Linked DNA regions of Homo sapiens: region 2 is linked to region 1. Evidence: fine-mapped expression QTL. A gene starts in region 1. The other region holds a variant in brackets. All regions are shown on one strand. Distances are from middle to middle.

The links.
Region 2: its variant is fine-mapped to the expression of ADAM29 in tibial artery (GTEx, PIP above 0.99).

The regions. Positions count from the first base shown.
Region 1 is chr4:174,913,887-174,923,787 of GRCh38, forward strand. ADAM29 (ADAM metallopeptidase domain 29) reads left to right here and starts at 4,472. Exons shown (of 5, transcript NM_014269.4): 1 at 4,472-4,585; 2 at 6,801-6,906.
Region 2 is chr4:175,398,683-175,408,583 of GRCh38, forward strand. No RefSeq gene overlaps it. Among named protein-coding and RNA genes, the nearest start is that of GPM6A-DT, 390 kb to the right of the region's middle. The variant G/C (reference allele first, on the strand shown) is at 4,583.

The sequences.
Region 1 (9,901 bases):
AAGCTATGAGGCAATATCATCTGGTCTAACACATGTGTAATTAGAATATCAAAGGGAGAAGAAATAATGAGCAGAAGAAATTTTTTAAAAATGTGCCTAAGAATTTTCTGAAATTAGTGACAGACACCAATCCACAGATCCAAAGAGCTGAGAGAACAACAAGCAGGACAAATTCCAAAAAGACACATCTACATATATCATATTCAAACTGTTGAAAGCCAAGCAAGTGAGCAACCAAAGTAACACACACACACACACACACACACACACACACACACACACACGAGAGAGAGAGAGAGAGAGAGAATCTTAAGGTAGCTGGTATGGGGGTTATATAATTTATAATAGTACTTAAAATGAAATGCTTTGGTGTAACTAAATATAACAGAATGTGTGGAGAATCTGTATGCTGAAAAGGAAATAAATCTGATGGAAAAAATAAAAGACAATCTAAATAAATGGAAAGCTACACAGGGTTAAGTATTTGAAACACTTAATATTTGAGATGTCAATTCTTACCAAACTGATTTTTATCCCAACAAAAATCCCAACTAACTTCTGTAAATATTGACAAGCAGATTCAAAATGTATACGGAAAGGCAAAGGAACCAGATTAACCAAACAATTTTTATAAAGAAAAAAATTGTGAGGGGGATCTGACACTACTACATTATAGTACTGTTATAAAGCTACAGCATTCAAGACTACAATATTAATGAAAGGATCAAGTCATAAATCAATGGAGCAGAATAAATATCTTAGAAATAGACCCACAAAATGTAGCCAACTGATTTTTCACAAATATAGAAATAGAAAAGGCATAGTCTTTTTAGCAAATGGTACTGAAGCAATTGAACTTCCATATGCAAAATAAATAAATGACACCTCGGCAGACACTTCATGCCTAATATAAAAATAAACTCACAATGGATTATAGACCCAAATAGAAACATAAACTATAAAAGTTCTAGGAGAAGGAGGATTGCATGACCTTAGCAATGAATTCTTAGGTATAGTGCAAAAGCATGAGCCATATGTTTTATAAATACAGTTTTTCTATTTATGTTTGATAAATAGAGTTTATCAAAATTAAAACATTTTGCTCTTCAAAATATATTCTAATGAAAGTGAAAATACAAACAACAGACTGGTAGAAAATATTTGCAAATTACATTAGAGATAAAGAACTTGTATCTAGAAATGTAGAGAACATTTAACAATCACAAGAAAACAAACTACCTAACTAAGATGGGAAAGGTCTCAAACATTTTGAGAAAGAAAATAAACAGATGACAATCAAAACCATATTGAGTTACCTCTACACACATATCAGAATGGCGAAAACAAAACAAAACAAACATACAAAAATTGATAATAGCAAATGCTTGTGAGGATGCAGGAAACAGAAACTCTCCTTCATTGCTGTTGGGACTGCAAAATGGTATGTACAGCCACTTTGGAAACTGACAGTTTCTTACGACGTTAAATATATATTCACCGTGTGAACCAACAATACCATGTTTGGTTTTTCTTTTTGTTTTTTGTTTTTTGTTTTTGAGACGGAGTCTCACACTGTTGCCCAGGCTGGAGTGCAGTGGTGCGATCTCGGCTCACTGCAAGCTCCGCCTCCCGGGTTCACGCCATTCTCCTGCCTCAGCCTCCAGAGTAGCTGGGACTACAGGCGCCCACCACCACGCCCGGCTACTTTTTTGTATTTTTAGTAGAGACGGGGTTTCACCGTGTTAGCCAGGATGGTCTCGATCTCCTGACCTTGTGATCTGCCTGCCTCGGCCTCCCAAATTGCTGGGATTACAAGTGTGAGCCACCGCGCCCGGCCCCATTGTTTAGTTTTTAACCTAGGTAAATTAGTAAAAGTCTGTGTGCACAAAACCTGAAACCTGTATGCAAATTTTTCTAAAAGCTTTATAATCACCACAAAGCAAAAATAACCAGGATTCCCTTTAACATATGAGTAGATTAACATGCTGCAAAGTACCTATACAAAGAAACATTACTCAGCACTAAAAAGAAACTGTTGATTCATACAACAATATGAAGAAATCTTGATTTCATTTTGCCAAATGAAAGCAGCAAGACCCAAAGGGCTGTATACTGTATAATTTCATTTACATGACATTTTGCTAAATGAGAAAAAAAAATCAGTTGTTGATCAGGACATTTAGTTTTGATCACTGGAGAGCACACAATGGAAATTTAGAATGAGGCAACTGTTTTATATGGTTCTGCAGTGATGTACAAATGACACTACGCATTTTTCAAAATTTCAGAAACCATACAAAATAGTGCATTAAATGTACTCATATTAAAATAAAAACTAAGCTTTTGGAAATCCAAGGATGAAATGAAGACTGTGCCAAATAAATCTAAGTACAGGGTTTAATCTCACTGAAGTGTGTGAGAGAAACAAGAAAGAGCTCACAATAACGTTGGGAACAATGTTTTGACTAGACCATAAAATTAAAGGCAGAAAGAACTTTACATAAGCACTTTATTTTAGCTGGTAATTTTGATCTCACAGGGTAAATTTAGCCATTCTGGAACTACAACTCCTAAAGTTGTACAAGTAAGTAAACAAAATGTAGACAGTTCACTACATGGAATGGAATGGGAACCAAATTCTTTATATCGAAAAAGGAAATTACAAATGAGCAAGTGGGAGAGGCTAGAATGACCACTGTGGCCATGAGTTACAATTGGAAATAAAAGATTGAGTTCTTGTTTCTTTTAATATGCATAAATATAAGTAAATACAGAAATACATATAAACGTGTGCATATGTACATATAACTTTCTCTCTCTTTCCAGAAAAAGTAAACAAGCAATGATAGTTCTATAGCAATGAGCACCACTGTTGTTTATATCATGGATTCTAAATATGATTCTGCAATCATATTTAGAGAAATGACTGATTTCTTTGGTCATATTTGGAGAAAATATGGGGCTTGGGCAGGAAAAATACAAATGATTCTGGAGCATCCTCTGGTGCTAGAAAGCAAGCAAGGGCTGATAAATACATAAACATACAGATAAATACATAGGGCATGTCAAAGTGATCCAAGAGTTATCCTGAAACCTCAAAAAATCTCCCAAGACAACCCTAGAACAACTTGAGTAACAAAATAAACAATGTCATTATTGAATTACATCCATTAGATCAAATAAACACGTGCCCATACTGTTATAAATAATCAAATAAATTAATTGATGAAGAAAGGGAAAAGCTTCTTTACAAATGGTGAATGTAGAAGAATGGCAGAAATAACAAGTCAACAGGTCTGAAAATATCTCCCCAAAATATTTATTAAGTACTATGGTAGTTGAAACATATGCCTGTAAATTCTCTGATACTCCTCTCTCCATGGTGGAGCTTGAGGGTGGGTTAGATTTGTTAAGAAGCTTCTAATGAATAGAGCAGGAAAAGAGACAAAAGGCAGCTTTCCAGTGGAGAAATCTATCAGTCGCTAACTTAGCCATGGTGTCAAAGTAAGCCATCTCCAATAACAAATCATGTTGATATCAAGTTTCCCTGACATATTAGAAAAAGGCTTTAAATGATATTCTTCACAAAATCCATACCTCAGTTGCACTGTGAGAACCACAGAAACCCATATCAAGGGCCATTCTACAAAATACCTTCCAAAGTATATTGGTAATGAACAACAAGGAAAAACTGACAAACTGTCACAAACTGGAGGAAACTAAGGGGATACGATGACTTAGTAATGTGGTAACCTGGACTGGATCCTGGAAATGAAAAAAAAATTAGGGGAAAATACAGGCAAATCCTAATGAAGTCTGTAACTTAGTTAATAGTATTATACCAATGGTAATTTTTTACTTTTAATAAATGTATCATGGTTATTCAAGATGTTAACATTAGGGGAAGCTAGATGAAGCATATATGAAAACTCTACAAGCTTTGCAACTCTTCTTTAAGGATTTAATCATTAAAAAATTAAAAATAAATGAAAAAAACAGCTGCAACAATGGTCTATACGTTGAGAATTTCAAAAAGATGCTGTTTACTTTGGGATTCAAGTAAAAACACTATAGTTGTTAAACCCTAGAGTACTCTTGAAAAAGACGGTTTTGTACACTTTAAACTGAAAGAGTATAGGAAAAATAATTTCACTCTTACAGCTAGGAAACAAAAGGGAACAAATACAAATGGGATAATTATTGAAGTTTCTGCAAGGGGGAATAAATCGCTCAATGTCCCTTCATTGCATAAAGGCAAAGTTCTCTAATTATTAAAGAAAAAAACCTCAACATTTTGATTGATAGGCCCTGTGACATCTGTCATACATCTTGACATTGTTACCTAACTTCTCCCTGGGACTGAATAACTATCAGGTGCCGGGTACCGCTAATAAACCTCAAACACTTTGCATGCCCCAGTGCATAACTGTCGCCCTCAGACTCTTAATTGAGAAACATTCTTTCCTCCTTTGTGACATCACATCCACTAACCAAATGGGGTGGTGTGAGTATCTCCTATAAAATAAAAGCTCTCCTGATGGCCTGTTCCTGCACATTTCCTGAGGACGCCCTCGATCACAAGCAGGTTATAGCTATTTAAACCTTGCCTTACCTGTACTCTTTACACAAATTGAAGGTCAAAGAAGTAGTCATACTTCTGGGCATAGATTAAACTGATTTTGTAATACTGTTTAGGCTGAACCTATCAGTTTCAGACTAAACCCTCCAAATATCTGCCCAAACTTGCCCCATACCCTCTAAAACCAAGGCCTAACAAAGCACTAAAATCAATAGATGAAAACCTAATTGAGAAATGAATCATGAAACTTTGTACTATTCCTTGTAGTACTTCTCTAAATTTAAAAAAAAGAAAAAGAAAAAAAAACACAGGGCAGTGATATAAATTTGTTCAGAATCTCAGGAGTATAAATTGAATAATGATCTCCCACTTCTCTGTAGTAACAAATTCAAATATTATTTTGTCTTTGGTGCATAATGAAATTGCATATTTTACAGCTGTAAATCTGTTTTCTGTTCCTTTAGAATCTGTTTAATTCAGAGTCATATGTTTGCTTTCTTCTGAGAAATTCGATAACGTACACTGGTAATTATGACTTAGGGCTTATTGAGATATTGTCTTAATTTTTAAAAGTCTTTAACCAGGGCCTCAAGGAACTTACATTTCCCTATATTCTACCATACTTTGTGGCATTCTAAAGTTTAGCTGAGCTCTAGGACTGACTCCATCCATCTAATTACTTGTTTTATCTCTAATAGTCTATAAACTTTCTGATGGGGACTAAAATTTTTTCTCAAAGTAAAGTGTATCATCTGAAGCATAATATATCCCAAGGAGGTAAATTTCTCTTTTCTGAAAGATCATAACCATTCAGAATTTTTCTAGTTAGTAACCAGGAGATTTTAGAGATGATTCTTTGGGTCTCATTCACTATAGCCAACAATGGGTTTCCAAATGTATTCATTTTCTGTGGCTAGATATTAAATTAGCACAGAGTTAGGCGCAAAAAGCAACACACATTTATCACACCACAGTTTCTGTGGATGAGGAGTTTGGGTAAGGCTTAACTAGGTCCTTTGTTCAGGGTCTCACAAGCCGAAATCAAGGCATTAGCCACGTTGCAGTTCTCTTCTGGAGCTCAAAGTTCTCTTCCAAGCTCATTAATGTTGGTAGAATTTAGTTACTTGTGGTTGTAGCATCAAGGTCCTCTCCTTTTAGAGGCTCCCCCTCTTTACTGGCAGCTTTCAATACAGCTGTTTCTCTTTAAGGCTAGCTAGAGATTCTTTTGCTTTTATGGCTTTCACCTGATTAAGTCAGTGCCCATCCAGAATAATGTCCCTTTTGAGTCAAAGTCAACTAATTAGAGATCTCAGTTACAGCGGCAAAACCCTTTCACCTTTTCTGTGTTACATAATCCAATCACTCAAGTGACATTTATCATATTCAAAGATCCTACTTATATTCAAGGGAGAGGGTTATACAAGAACATGCACATCTGGGCATTTTAGGAGTCATTTTCTTATTCTGTCTGCCACGTTGACTTTCAGAAATTGACACAATACTGTATCACTTAACCAAATCTTTGTTAATCAAATCTCTTATCTGAGAATTTATGCATATATAGGCATTTCATGCTTTAAAAATTAGCCCTTCAACAACCTCTCATTATGAGCCTGCGTCATCATGAATCATGTTACCTATTCATACATAAAAGATCTGAACAAGTCAAATATCTCTTCCATCTCAACAAACCAGTATCATGCAACTATTTTTCTACTAACCCAATGTCAAAATCCTACTTTCCTAAGCTGAAAGCAGAAGTTGAAACTTGATGGAGGCTTCTACTAACAGTTTTACTTTCTACCTTAAACTTAATGGTTCCCTATTTTGCCAGTCTTTGCTGCCCATTAAAAGTATGCAATATTTCCTAAGAAAGTAGGCTTACTTTCTAAAATTGAATTACTTTCTTCTTTCCATGTTTCTGTTCATCACTGTAATACTTTAAATACTATTAATCTTCTTCCATTAGAAGAGGGAAGCTCATGGCCCCCTAACCACTGCTTCCTGAATATCTAGTAAATTTATTAAAACACGCTAATAAATTAATTAAAGCATGCCCAGAAATCCAGATTTAATCTTGATTTGTTTGTAGGTCATATCCTAAGAATGAAACCAGAAAATATCAGGCAGAAAACACTGGAACAAATTTTAACTCACCATTTTGACCCCTTTCCAGAAATGAAAATATTCTTAGATAACATAATTGTTTCCATTCCCATAGCTTGCTGGATGAATAAAGGAAAGAAGGTTTATATACACTAATAATAGAAATGTTTTGGGATGGTTCATGATTTCGAAAAGCTTCAGAGAAAATAAAGATGCTTAATGTAAGTATCTTTGCAGTAAGATAATGTAATTATCTTACATTATCCATAATTTAGAATGGTTAGCAGATTAAAAGTATTTTAATAACTCTAATGGTTCCTAAGAAGTTGACTATTATCAAGGTGGATATCAGTTCAAAAAGGGACATCATCAAAGCAAAAGAAAATGTCGATTGATCATTACACCAATGGGTAGTTCTCACCAAGATCTCTAACCCACAACACTCAGAGACTACATCTTTGAAGAAGTTCAAAGAGAATATTATACTATGCCAGTCTTTGGTTCTACAGTAAGAAAACTAGAATAATAAGCACAATGGAATTGTCACCAGAAAGTATAAACAAGATGAGTATAAACAAAATTTATAAACAAGATGTAAACAAACACGTTTTTAAAAACCTGTATTTATGAAAACAGTCAATCAACTCAAATGTTACATACAATTTTTCAACAAGAGAAATAAAAGCTATAATATGAAAATCACCTCTGGCCCACTTAGAGTGGCTTCTGGTGGCCCCAAGTGAAGTCTTCTTAAAAAGGCATGTGACATTACGCACACATGTAGGACAAACTGGCCTCTGTACTCAACCAACATCAGTGAGAAAATGAATTTCATTTCCTGTTGCTGGACTACTCTTTATGCATGGTGCCAAAGAATTATAATATTATCTGACAAACCCATATGGGCATTTTGGCCAAAACCAGATCATTGAATGGTCCCCAACAACCAATTTCCAGATGGACGCACAAAAGCCTACTGCCTATTATCCAAAAAGTGAACAGGAATATGTTACCATGTTAAACTGATATCCACCTTAAGGATAGTGGCTAACAATGTCAACTCACATATATTTTGATCCATCAGTTTCCCGTCTCAGTAAAAGATTAATATGCTTTCTTTGTATGTTTTACATAAATTGAATCATTTTTAAAAGCTTTACTAAATATGTAATATATGGAAGGTGTATTATTAACTGCTACAGGAAATACCTGTGGGAATAAGTTGTGTGTGTGTGCACATGTATACACACATACATGTGTGGTTAAATTTCAAAATTTCTTCCAAGCTATAGGTAAATTTTCAAATGACTTTTATTTTCGTATGTAGTTCAAAATGTGGAATGATAAGATAAAGAAATGATACTTTAGGAAGCCAGACTTATCAGGTATTATAACAATTAATTTAAAGTTCAAACTCAATTGAAATCACTCTATTGAGTCTCCAACTACTAAATTAGTTAATGATTCTTTTTAACCTTTGGGATCTTGGTTTGATGGAAGTGAATATAAGTATCAAAATTCCTTAAATATTTCCAATATGAAGACAAGTTTAAATCATATATAAAATTCAAATAAAGGTCTGTCACCAGGAACATTAATAAGCATAATGTAACTGTCACTATAAAGTCTTAATAAACAAGTTGTAAACAAAATACAATTTTTAAAAACTGTGTTGATGACAATAGCTTATCAACTTGAATGTTACATACACTCTTTCAACAAGAGAAAAAAGCTGAGCAAACTGAAATCAATGAATTTTATTGGACCCATTAGAGAACTGAAGTCATAGAGCAAATCATCATCCTGAAATCTGGAGACAGGCAAATACAGAGGGTCATAACTGGAGTCTGCTTATTTGGAGCAGAAGTTTCCAAAGCCATAAACTGGTAGTAACATTTATAAGGTAATTCTTCTGAACTGCTGAAGCTTTTTGATGAGGCTGAGTTTCAATCAGCACGAGCATAAGAAACTCAGAGGTACCATTTATGGAGGCTTCCATACTTTGGTGGGTTTTTACTTCTAGGAACCCCACCAACTTATCATTGTGAAGAGGTAAGAGAGAGACCCTCACGGCTGTGACAGTGGGTAGAGAAAGTTACCATTTGAAATATTTGAAACCATTTTTATTTTATTTTTATAAAATAAATATTTTTATCCTAAAAAATATTTATTCTGTTAGTTATTTTATCCCCCCACTATCACATTCTTGTGATAATCACATCTTTTAAATCTGTAAGCAATGTTATCTTTTAATATAATCTTTGAAATATAATCTTCGAAATCTCACAAAAATTTATATTTTATAATTCACCGTGAATAGCAAAGCCAAAAGAATAACCCACTATTTCCTATACTCAAACATGTTACACATCAACCCAAAAGAAAAAAGACACGAAACCAAAACCAAGGAAACACATATGCTTAGTTAGGAGTTAAAGTTACTCAAGCTCTCCAAATAAAACATACAAATTATTAGCATTAATTAATTATTATTATTTTTTTGAGATGCAGTCTCACTCTGTTGCCTAGGCTGGAGTGCAGTGGTGCGATCTCGGCTCACTGCAACCTCCACTTCCCGAGTTCAGGTGATTCTCCTGGCTCAGCCTCCCCTTGTAACTGGGATTACAGGTCTGCGCCACCACACCTGGCTAATTTTTGTATTTTTAGTATAGACGGGATTTCACCATGTTGGCCAGGCTGATCTCCAACTCCTGACATCCTGATCCACCCACCTCGGACTCCCAAAGTGCTGGGATTACAGTCATGAGCCACCGTGCTTGGCCTAATTTAATACAATTATAACTTAAATGGCCACTTTGTCATTGACAATGATTGCTTGAGCACAGGGTGAGTGCCCCATAAGCTGTTAGGAGCTGTTTCTTCAGATCAATGTCTCCTCTCTGCACTGCCAGCTCCTACCTGTGCATCATCCCCTATATACTGTGCATTATATGTATATATATATATATATATATATATATATATATATACACACACACATATATATCTTTAAAAAATATTTTCCACCACACATACTTCCTTTCATTAATCAGATAACAGGGAAGAACAACAACAAAATCTGAACAAGCCGATCACTTTCTCTTTGGGATATGATTTTTTTCCTTGTGCATGAAGTATTCAGCAACAACATAAGAAAGGGAAAAGAAGAACCATTTCTTGTGTATACTCCCTAAACACACAAGCCTAGTCCACTGG
Region 2 (9,901 bases), 480 kb after region 1:
ACAAAGTCAGGCAAGGACAGTACAAGAAAAAAAATTACAGCCAATATCCCTACTGAACATAGATACAAAATCCTTGAACAAAATAACAAAATCTTAGAGCTCATTTAAAAGATCACACACCATAACTAAGTGTGATTAATCTCTGGGATGAAAGGATCTTTCAGCAAATGCAAACCAGTAACTGTGATATGTCAAATTAGTAGAATGAAAGATGAAAAGAATATGATCATCTTGATAGATGTAGAAGAAGCATTTCACAAAATTAAACATTCTTTTATTATAAAAATGCTCAACAAATTATGTATATAAGGAGTGTACCTCAACATAATAAAGCCCAAGCTACTGTCATATTCAATGGTTAGAAACTGAAAACTTTTCCTCAAAGATCAGAAACAAGGTAAAGATGCCCACTCTTGTCACTTCTGTTCAGCATATGCTGGAATTAACAGCCAGAGCAACTAGACAAAAAAAAATACATCCAAATTAAAAAGAAAGTTGTCTCTGTTTGCAAATGACATGATCTTATATATAGAACACTCTAAAGACTCTACTAAAAAACTATCGTATTTAATAAATATATTCGGTAAATTTGCAGGACAGAAAATCATATGTGAAAAATCAGTCGTGTTTTTACAAACTCACAATAAATTATCTGAAAAAGGTATTAAGAAAATAACACCATTTACAATAGCATCAGAAAAATACAGTACTTAGGAATAAATTTAGCCAAGGGGTCCAAAGAGCTGTACACTGAAACTATAAAACACTGATGAAATAAATTGGGGAAGACATAAATCACTGGAAAGATATCCTGTGTTCATGTATTGGAAGACTTAATATCATTAAAATATTCATACCATTCAAAGCAATTTACAAATTCAATCAATGCCTATCAAAATTCCAAAGTTATTTTTCACAGAAATAGAAAAGCAATCCTAAAATTCATATGGATTCACAAAAGTCCTGCAATAGCCAAAGCAATTTTAAGAAAGAGGAATGAAGCTGAAGACATCATACTTCCTGGCTTTAAAGTATATTACAAAGTTATAGTAATCAAAACAGTATGGTGCTGGCATAAAAGCAGACACATATATCAATAGAACAGAATAGAGACCCCTGAAATAAACCCACACACATACAGTCAACTAGTTTTTGAAAAGGAGGCCTGGAATACAAAATTGGGAAAGGGTAGTCTCTTCAATAAATGGTGTCAGAAAAGTTGGATATCTAGATATTCTAAAGGTCTTTATAAGATTTTTGAAGACTTCATGAATTTTCAAAATTAAATAAACAATATTTGTGCTTTAAGTACGTGATAAGTTCTAAACAAACTATAAATCCACTTATCAAAAGACAATTGCTAAAAAAAAAAAAAGAATTTACTAAAAGGCTAAATCTCAGAACTCACTGCATTTTTCAACTTTCAAAATCTATTTTAATTGTTCATATTTGTATCAGTTTGGTTTTCTTAACTTTTGAAAGTTTTTGTTATATTTAGTTACCTCTTTCTACATACCCACATATTTTTAATTGTTCAGGTTTTTTAAATGAGAGATTCTAAGACAATTTAAAGTTTTAAAAGCATGTTTTCCATTCAGAGAAGTATATTTTGTAATCAGTAATGAAATTTTAAAATAAGGAGCAATTTTATTTTGTGGAAAAAAATTATCATGAAAGCATGGGGCCACACAAAACAAAAGGAAAAAAGTGAGGATGCAAGGAAGAGATTTTAAATAAATAATATGATTATCATAACAAATGTGACACGTTAACACAAGTACAATTTCTGAAGGAAAAACAGAAGCAAATAGTTGACCATTCTAAAATACTGCTAGTGTAAGACATGCACTTAGGAACAAGATAAACTATAACACATATTAAATCTTAGGTACAATTAACTAGAAGTTATCAATAAATGGCTTTAAACTATATTATGAAGCTATCGTGATCAACACAGTATGGTACGGTTGGTACGCTCTTTAAAAACTGAAGAAAATAATTTTGAAATAATAAAATTGTTGACAAAACAGCAACTATATATTATTTGAAAGGAATCAAGATAAATACGTATATTATATGAATTGCTGAAATGTTGCTTATTAATTATGGAGCATACTACTTTGAATATTCAGTATATTTATGAGACTAAGCTACTCTCTACCCCTTTATTTAAAACCAATATAATATTTCTTAACATGCTACTATAAAGACAAAATAAAACCATTCTTTAAGCTTCATAGAAGTCTACAAATATTGTAAAAAATCATTCCACATAATATGTTGTAAACTTATAAAAATAGTTTAATAGTTGTTTTTGCTAATTTACCAAATTGGTTATCTGACAAATTATTTTCTGAGAATTGCCTTTGGCTTATTCGATCATCAGTAACTTGGCCTTTATCTATGTTATGAATACTCACAGTTTCCCTTCTTTGAGATGTTTCCATTCATTAATGTAAGGGGGTATGTGATTATCAACTTTGTGTCAACTTTAGTAGGCCACATTACCCAGATATTTGGTCAAACACCAGTCTGGATGTTACATGAAGTTATTGTTTAGATGAGATTAATATTTAAATCAGTAGACGTTGAGGGAAGCAGATTACCTTAAAGGCCTTAAGAAAAAACAGGCTGAGATCCCTTATGAAGAGGAAATTCTGCCTCCAGACTGTCTTTGGGATCAACATTCCATGCCAACTCTCCAGTCTGTGGGCTTATGCTACAGATTTTGGACTTGCCATCCTTCATAATCACATTAGCTAGTTCCTTAAAACAAATCTCTCTCTCTCCCTCCATATATGTATATAAACACACATGCACACACACACACACAGACATAAAATACACATATATATTAATAATATATGCATACTGTGAAAGGAAAATAAATCTTGGGGCCCCAAAATCATTAAACTAAAGGGAAAAGTCAAGCTGGGAACTGCTTAGGGCAAACCTGCCTCCTACTCTACGCAAAGTCACCCCTCTGCTCACTGAGATAAATGCATATCTGATTGCCTCCTTTGGAGAGGCTAATTAGAAACTCAAATGTATATAATCATTTGTCTCTTACCTACCTATGACCTGGAAGTCCCCTCCCCGCTTTGAGTTGTCCCACCTTTCTAGACCGAACCAACATTCGTGTTACATATGTTGATTTATGTCTCATGTCTCCCTAAAATATATAAAACCAAACTGTGCTCTAACCACTTTGGGCACATGTTGTCAGGACCTCCTGAGACTGTGTCACCTGTGAGCATCCTCAACCTTGGCAAAATAAACTTTCTAAATTAACTGAGACCAGTCTCAAATTTTGAGGGTACACAACACACACACACACACACACACACACACACACACACACACACACACACATATACATACTTTTGGGTAAAAAGTAAAAAATGAATCCTTTTTTAATACTGGTTCTTCTAGTCTGACATGCTGTATTCCCATGCTAGATCACTAGGAGACAAATGTTTTCATCTTCCATGTAATAACACAAATGTATTGCCCTCCCAAAGCTTCCTCTGATTCCCTGTTCTGCGCTAGGCTTTCCTGCACTTATGCCTGCAAATGAGTTTTGATTGTGCCTGCCGTTGCTTGTTATATTGACTATCTCTATCATAGACTATTACATCCTTGAAACTATGTTTATGTGTCCAGGGCCTGTAGATTAATGGATGGATGGGTGGATGGATCAGTAGATCAATAAAATCAGCTACCAAAACATAAATCTTTCAAAATATTGGATGTGCTCTACTACAAGACCCTCTCAAAAAAAAGAAAAAAGAAGTAGTTCATGAGAAGTTTGAGTCCTTAAAGTTAATGCTGTTTTCTCTACATTCTAATCCCAGAAGTACAGCAATTCACTTGAATGATAGAAATGCTTCTAACAATGAACTGTACTGAAAATGATTTAAAATGAAAGCTTGTTGGACACAAAACGTATACAAGTTATATCACTGAACTTAACTCCCTTAAACATATTGCTAGACCAAAATCTGGAGTCGGGGGAAGGAGGGGTCTGTGGCACATCCTCTTACATTTTTAGTGGGAAAAAGCAAGACACATTCTAGACTTTTATTACACGGGTCCAAATATAGAAGCAGTTCTATGACATAAAGAGTTATTGTTTCAATAAGTATCTTGCCAGCCAGGCATGGTGGCTTATACCTGTAATTCCAGCACTTTGGGAGGTCAAGGCGGGTGGATCACCTAAGGTCAGGAGTTGGAGACCAGCCTGGCCAACATGATGAAACCTCATCTCTACAAAAAATATAAACATTACCTGGGCATCGTGGTGCACACTTGTAGTCCCAGCTACTCGGGAGCCTGAGGCAGGAGTATCGCTTGAACCTGGAGGTGGAGGTTTCAATGAGCCGAGATCATCCCACTGCACTCCAGCCTGGGCAGCAGAGAGAGATTCTGTCTCAAAAAAAAAAAAAAAAAGAAAGAAAAAAAGTGTCTTCTCTATTTTTAACCAGACAGATTTATGATGGGAAACTATGATAGTGTTTGTTTTGCTATTGCTTTTTTGTGAGCTCATGTTTCAATGAGTTTGAGCATAAAAATAGGTTACATT[G/C]CAGAGCAATGGAGTTAGACAAATATAATTTTCTGTTGATATAACTGAAGGCAAGGAATCTCAAAATCTCAGTGCAGGTGGTCTGCTGTGGCATTGCTATGAAGGTCCAGGATCCTAGCAAGAGAAGAATCATTACAGATCTCTCCACAAGAACTATTTGGCATTCACAAGTAGCTTTCCTAGTGAAGACTTACTATACAACAAAATAGAGAGAGCAGTAATTCCTTCTCAGCCACCAGAATTTTTGAAATAGCATCATCCTATATCTCAAGAGCTATTGGTATCACAAAAAAGAAAACATTTCTTGATATTCAGCTAAGAGAAAGCAGTTGCTCTGTGCAAAGCATTTCTATATTAACATTTTTGTATTTTACAACAACCTAACGTTGTACTCTTTTTAGTTACTAAGGATCCATGCATTATGCTTATGTTTGAGCCCCTCAGAATAGGTTTTATCTCAGTAAAGAATACTTGCCATTGTTTTTAGTTTTCTGCCAGTTCAATGATTTCTTAGCATTTCATTCCATGCACATTTTTACAGAAAACAAAAAAATATATAATTCAAATAGATCAAAATGAATATTCTCCATTGAATGCTTTTTACTGGTAAAATTAAACTAAATATAGTCAGCCGGGCACGGGGACTTACGCCTGTAACACCAGCACTTTGGGAGTCCAAGGCAGGCAGATCACCTGAGGTCAAGAGTTTGAGACCAGCCTAGCCAACATGGAGAAAGTCCATCTTTACTAAAAGTATAAAAATTAGCTGGGCGTAGTGGTGCACACCTGTAGTCCCAGCTACTCAGGAGGCTGAGGCATGAGAATCACTTGAACCTGGGAGGTGGAGCTTGTGGTGAGCTGAAATTGCACCACTGTACTCCAGCCTGGGTGATACAGCAAGACTCTGTCTCCAGAAAAAAAAAAAAAAAAGAAGAAGAAAAAATTAAATGTAGTCAATCCTCCCTTTCTGTGGGTTCTGTACCCCTGGGTTCCACAGCTGTCAATTAAATCAATCTCAGATCCAAAATACAATAACCCCAGGTTTCACATGGCCAGCTTCTGGACTTGAGCATCTGTAGAGTTTGGCATATGCAGGGTGTCCTGGAATCAATCCCCTACAATGACTGTATTACCTCATTTAATCATAAGGAGAATTTTGAAAAGTGTCTACCATTATTTTCTACTCCACTTTGTGGATGAAATTGTCCAAGACATTAATAGAGTAAAAAAATTCTAAGGTGAGAAATCTAATAAGAGAACAAAAATCCTGGCATCTAAAACCAAAGTATATCTGATTTCAAAGTGCTGGCTCTTAACTATCACTCTCTATCTTCCCCTAATCTTCCCAGCAAGTACTGTATTATAATCAATTCACCTGTTTTTTTTTCTTTTTTTGCAAAATCACTTTTGTGTAAACACTGACCTAGGCACTGTGTTGCATTTAAAGACAAAAAAGTTCATCAACACAAGATTGTTCTTTAAATATACATTTAATCCACTAAGGGATTTAAGTAATCTTCAAAGACCATTAGTCTTCACCAATTTTCCTTTTGAATATTTTAATAGCTTCAAAACTTTACAATGTGTAACCACTTTTTGGCTCTACATTAACTTGTGTGTAGGAACAATTCATCTGGTGAGTGAATCCTGATCATCTCTGCAGCATACCCATTTCAACGAGGAGCTTCTAGTGCTGCGATAGACGTGAAGAAAAAGTAGATATTTAAAAAAAATTCTCCCACGTACAACTTTTACCAGGAAATAGAAGTTTGAAACAAAGTGCTAAATGGTAAATTGATCAAGACTATGGATGAGTCTTACATTATTTTATGTGCAAACAAGAAAAAGGAAAATTTATAGTTTGCTCAATTCTTACAGCTGGGAAAGGAAAAATTGTAAACTAAATTGTGTTTACACATTTGGTGATTTTAAAGCCTTCATATGTACTTTTCCTAGATGTCAAATGTCATTACATAAAAAGTGTTTTGTTTTGTTTTTAGTATTGCAATGTGCTCAAGAATCATACAAAATAGAAAAGACACTTCAGACCCAAGAAATTGGGAAAAACCGCAGAAAGAAAACACAATTGAGCTGACCTTTAAGGACAGAAGAATTTCAACAGAAATAGGAGTTTCTGTTTTTTGTCTGTTTTGGGAAGTACAGTTCCAGATGAAACTGTGTTAATAAAAACATTATTCTTCAGAGGCTGAAATAATGAAAAATATAAGACTAAGCAAAAAAAATGAAAACCAAATTAGTCTATATCATAAAGAGCAGTAAATTTGGAAAAAATAAATAAGCTCTGTATGAAATTATTACACACATTACTATGAAAAAAGAGTTTCCCAAAGTCTCTGGATAAATAAAATAATTTCAGTGAACTAGAGAATGTCACCCGAGATTAAAAGCGCCTTCTTATTGCAGAAAATCTCTTAAAATAGACACACACACACACACACACACACGCACAGAGACAGAGAGAGAGAAGACAGAGAGATCATGAAAGAAAAGGCTATTCAATTACTTTAGAGATTAATGAAATTAAAAATAAAATATTTACTATATACACTTTCCCTTGACTTAAACTGAAACAAAACTAAATGTGGCAACTTTGATTTTTATTTGATCACCTTATGTGCTTTACATTGGTAGCATAAATGAAATAACTATACTAAAAGGAAAATTATTTTTCATGCTAGTTAAATATTCAATTGATTGTTTTGGCAGGCTAAATGTGGATGGGGCTAGGAGTACGAGGGAGATTTTTAATGAGCAGGTAGCTCTGAACTCAACAGCAAATTAAGGGAGCATAAATCCTTTATAAAAACTCTTCCCACATACTTCCTCTCCTCACCACCAGTTCACAAAAGGCTGCTGTTTTTATGAGAGACACTGAGAATAAAGTCTGAAGCTGTGAAGGAACTGGTTAAGTCAGAACAGGAAGGGAAGAGGCTATGAATGCAGAAGCAACTCAGAGGCGCTGACCCCAAAGGATAATTGCCAGAGAGGGTTCTTCTTCTCAGGTAGTCTTTGTGATCCAACATAGTCCCTAAATAATTCTAATAAACAAGTGTCATTTTTTGAAAAGTTCTTACTGTAGATACAACATGCAGAAGCCCCAGTCTCCTTGTTGGAGTCAAATGTGCATATTTAGTTAAAAAGAAAAAAGAGAACACCTGTTTCCATGACTACAGTGTTAATTTACTTCTTAGAGTTGATCTTGTGCGGGATTTCTGTTTTTCTTGCTATAGTATTATATGCATTGTTGACATTTAGATTTGCACTAATTTTAGTGCACATCTACACTAAAATATATAAAGTATGAATAAGTAAACAAGTATCTCTTTTTTTCAATTTATGTTCTTGTTCTTTTGAAATTACTAACACAAGTTGCAAAATCAAGCTCATTTTAGTCAACATTATGTATTATCTGTACATATATACAATATTAAATAGAATATTATTCAAAAGGCACAATTTTGTATTTAGTAAGAAAAGCAGAAAATCAGTTACCTTTGAATAAATAACTTGTTTGAAAAATAAGTTGGGAAATTTACAGCAGCAGTGGCATAAAATGTTTAAGGCTTCTCATATCTCTCTATAAAAAGTCAAATCAAACAACAATCACAAAAATCCATATATAACATCCACAATAAAAGTAGATGTAAAGTTGCCCACAAAACTTGAATGCTATGTGTTTGGGATCTGGGTAAAAATTTTCCATCGGGTCAAATATATTGATACAGTTGCACTATGCAGACATCCTGGATAAATGAGTTAGCTCATGAGGCCAGGAGTTACTCTGCTTGGGTGGCTGATTGAAATTTGGAACTAAACATAGGTAGTTTATACTGAACAAACTTAAGTGCCAAATTTCTTCATTTGTTATAGAAAAAGTTATCCAAATGCTTACAGAGATTAGAAAGTTGGAGTGGATTTATTACATGATAGCTGGTCTCCTGCCCATAACTATGTCTCCATTGTGAGAGTCCAGAAGACATTCTCTGCATTGATGCTTTGAAAAACACATTGTGAGTGGAACACAAAAATGAAAGGACTCTGCTACACTGTTAACATTTATACTATACATCTTACCCCAGCCTTCCCCAAGGAACCCCTAGTCATTTTCCCAGATGACTGTGCATTAGGGGAAGTAGTTAGGATTTGGGGATTACTCGTTGTTTGGAGCGCACTATTTTCTGAAGACCCAACACTAGCATTATTCACCTGCCAAGATTAATAGAGTTGTGTTTTATGTCCATCTCACAGTGAGCACTGTGTGTCTGCATCTACCCATGATGATTTTCCAAATTTTAGGATGTATATTTGGAATAGACATACAAAGCAACCGGCATAAGCCCACACTAGTTTCCACACTAATATAGACCCATGGGCTACTTTAATATACTAGGAAAGACAAAGTGAAAGAAAGAAAAATTGCTTCTACCTATTAAAATACTAAAGGCAAGACAATACTGTGTTTTCCTGGCAGGATTGCAGAGGTTAGTGCTAACATCCAGTTAAGTGATTCTAATCGTTTCTTCTATAAAATTTGCCTTTTTGGCTGAAACAAAACACAGATGGGTCTTGGGAAAAGAGAAAGAATTATTATAAATTTTATCAAGTGGAGATTCTAATTGCAGTATTGCTTTAGATTTAGGGTTGGTTTAGTTACTGGAGAAAATCAACATATCCCTTGGTATTTGAAAAGCAGCCATCAATCTGTTAAATACTTTTCCCTATGAATCTTAGTAATGACAGTATACTTTCTCACCACAGGATTATATCACTCTCCAACTCTCAGTCATAGTCTAATCTGCAAGGACTTTGATCATCTCTTCATTTCACAGAACATCAAATTAGCCCACGTCAATGACATCATAATAATTACAGGAAGCGGTAATAATCCTAAGCACTGCAATATGATACATGCATGCCAGAGGGTGGGGAAAAAAATAACAGACAATTTCAAAGATGTGCAAAGATTTCTCAATGATAATTCTAAGATCTGACTGATCTGGGGAATGCTGACATCCTTTCAAGGTAAAAAACAAGTGTATCTGTTCTCTCCTGTCATAAAGAAGAGACACAATGCCTACTGAGCACTGTGGTTTTAGAGGCAATACATATCCCAATTTGGGGTGCTACTTCCACCTATTTACTCAGTGGTTAGAACTGCTGCTAGATTTGTATGAAACCTAGACTTCGAGGAGGCCCTGCATCAGGTTCAGGCTGCTGTTAAAGCTACTCTGCCATTTGAGTTCTATGAAGGCATTATGATGAAATGTTGTAAAAGTTAAATATACTCTTAGTGGATTT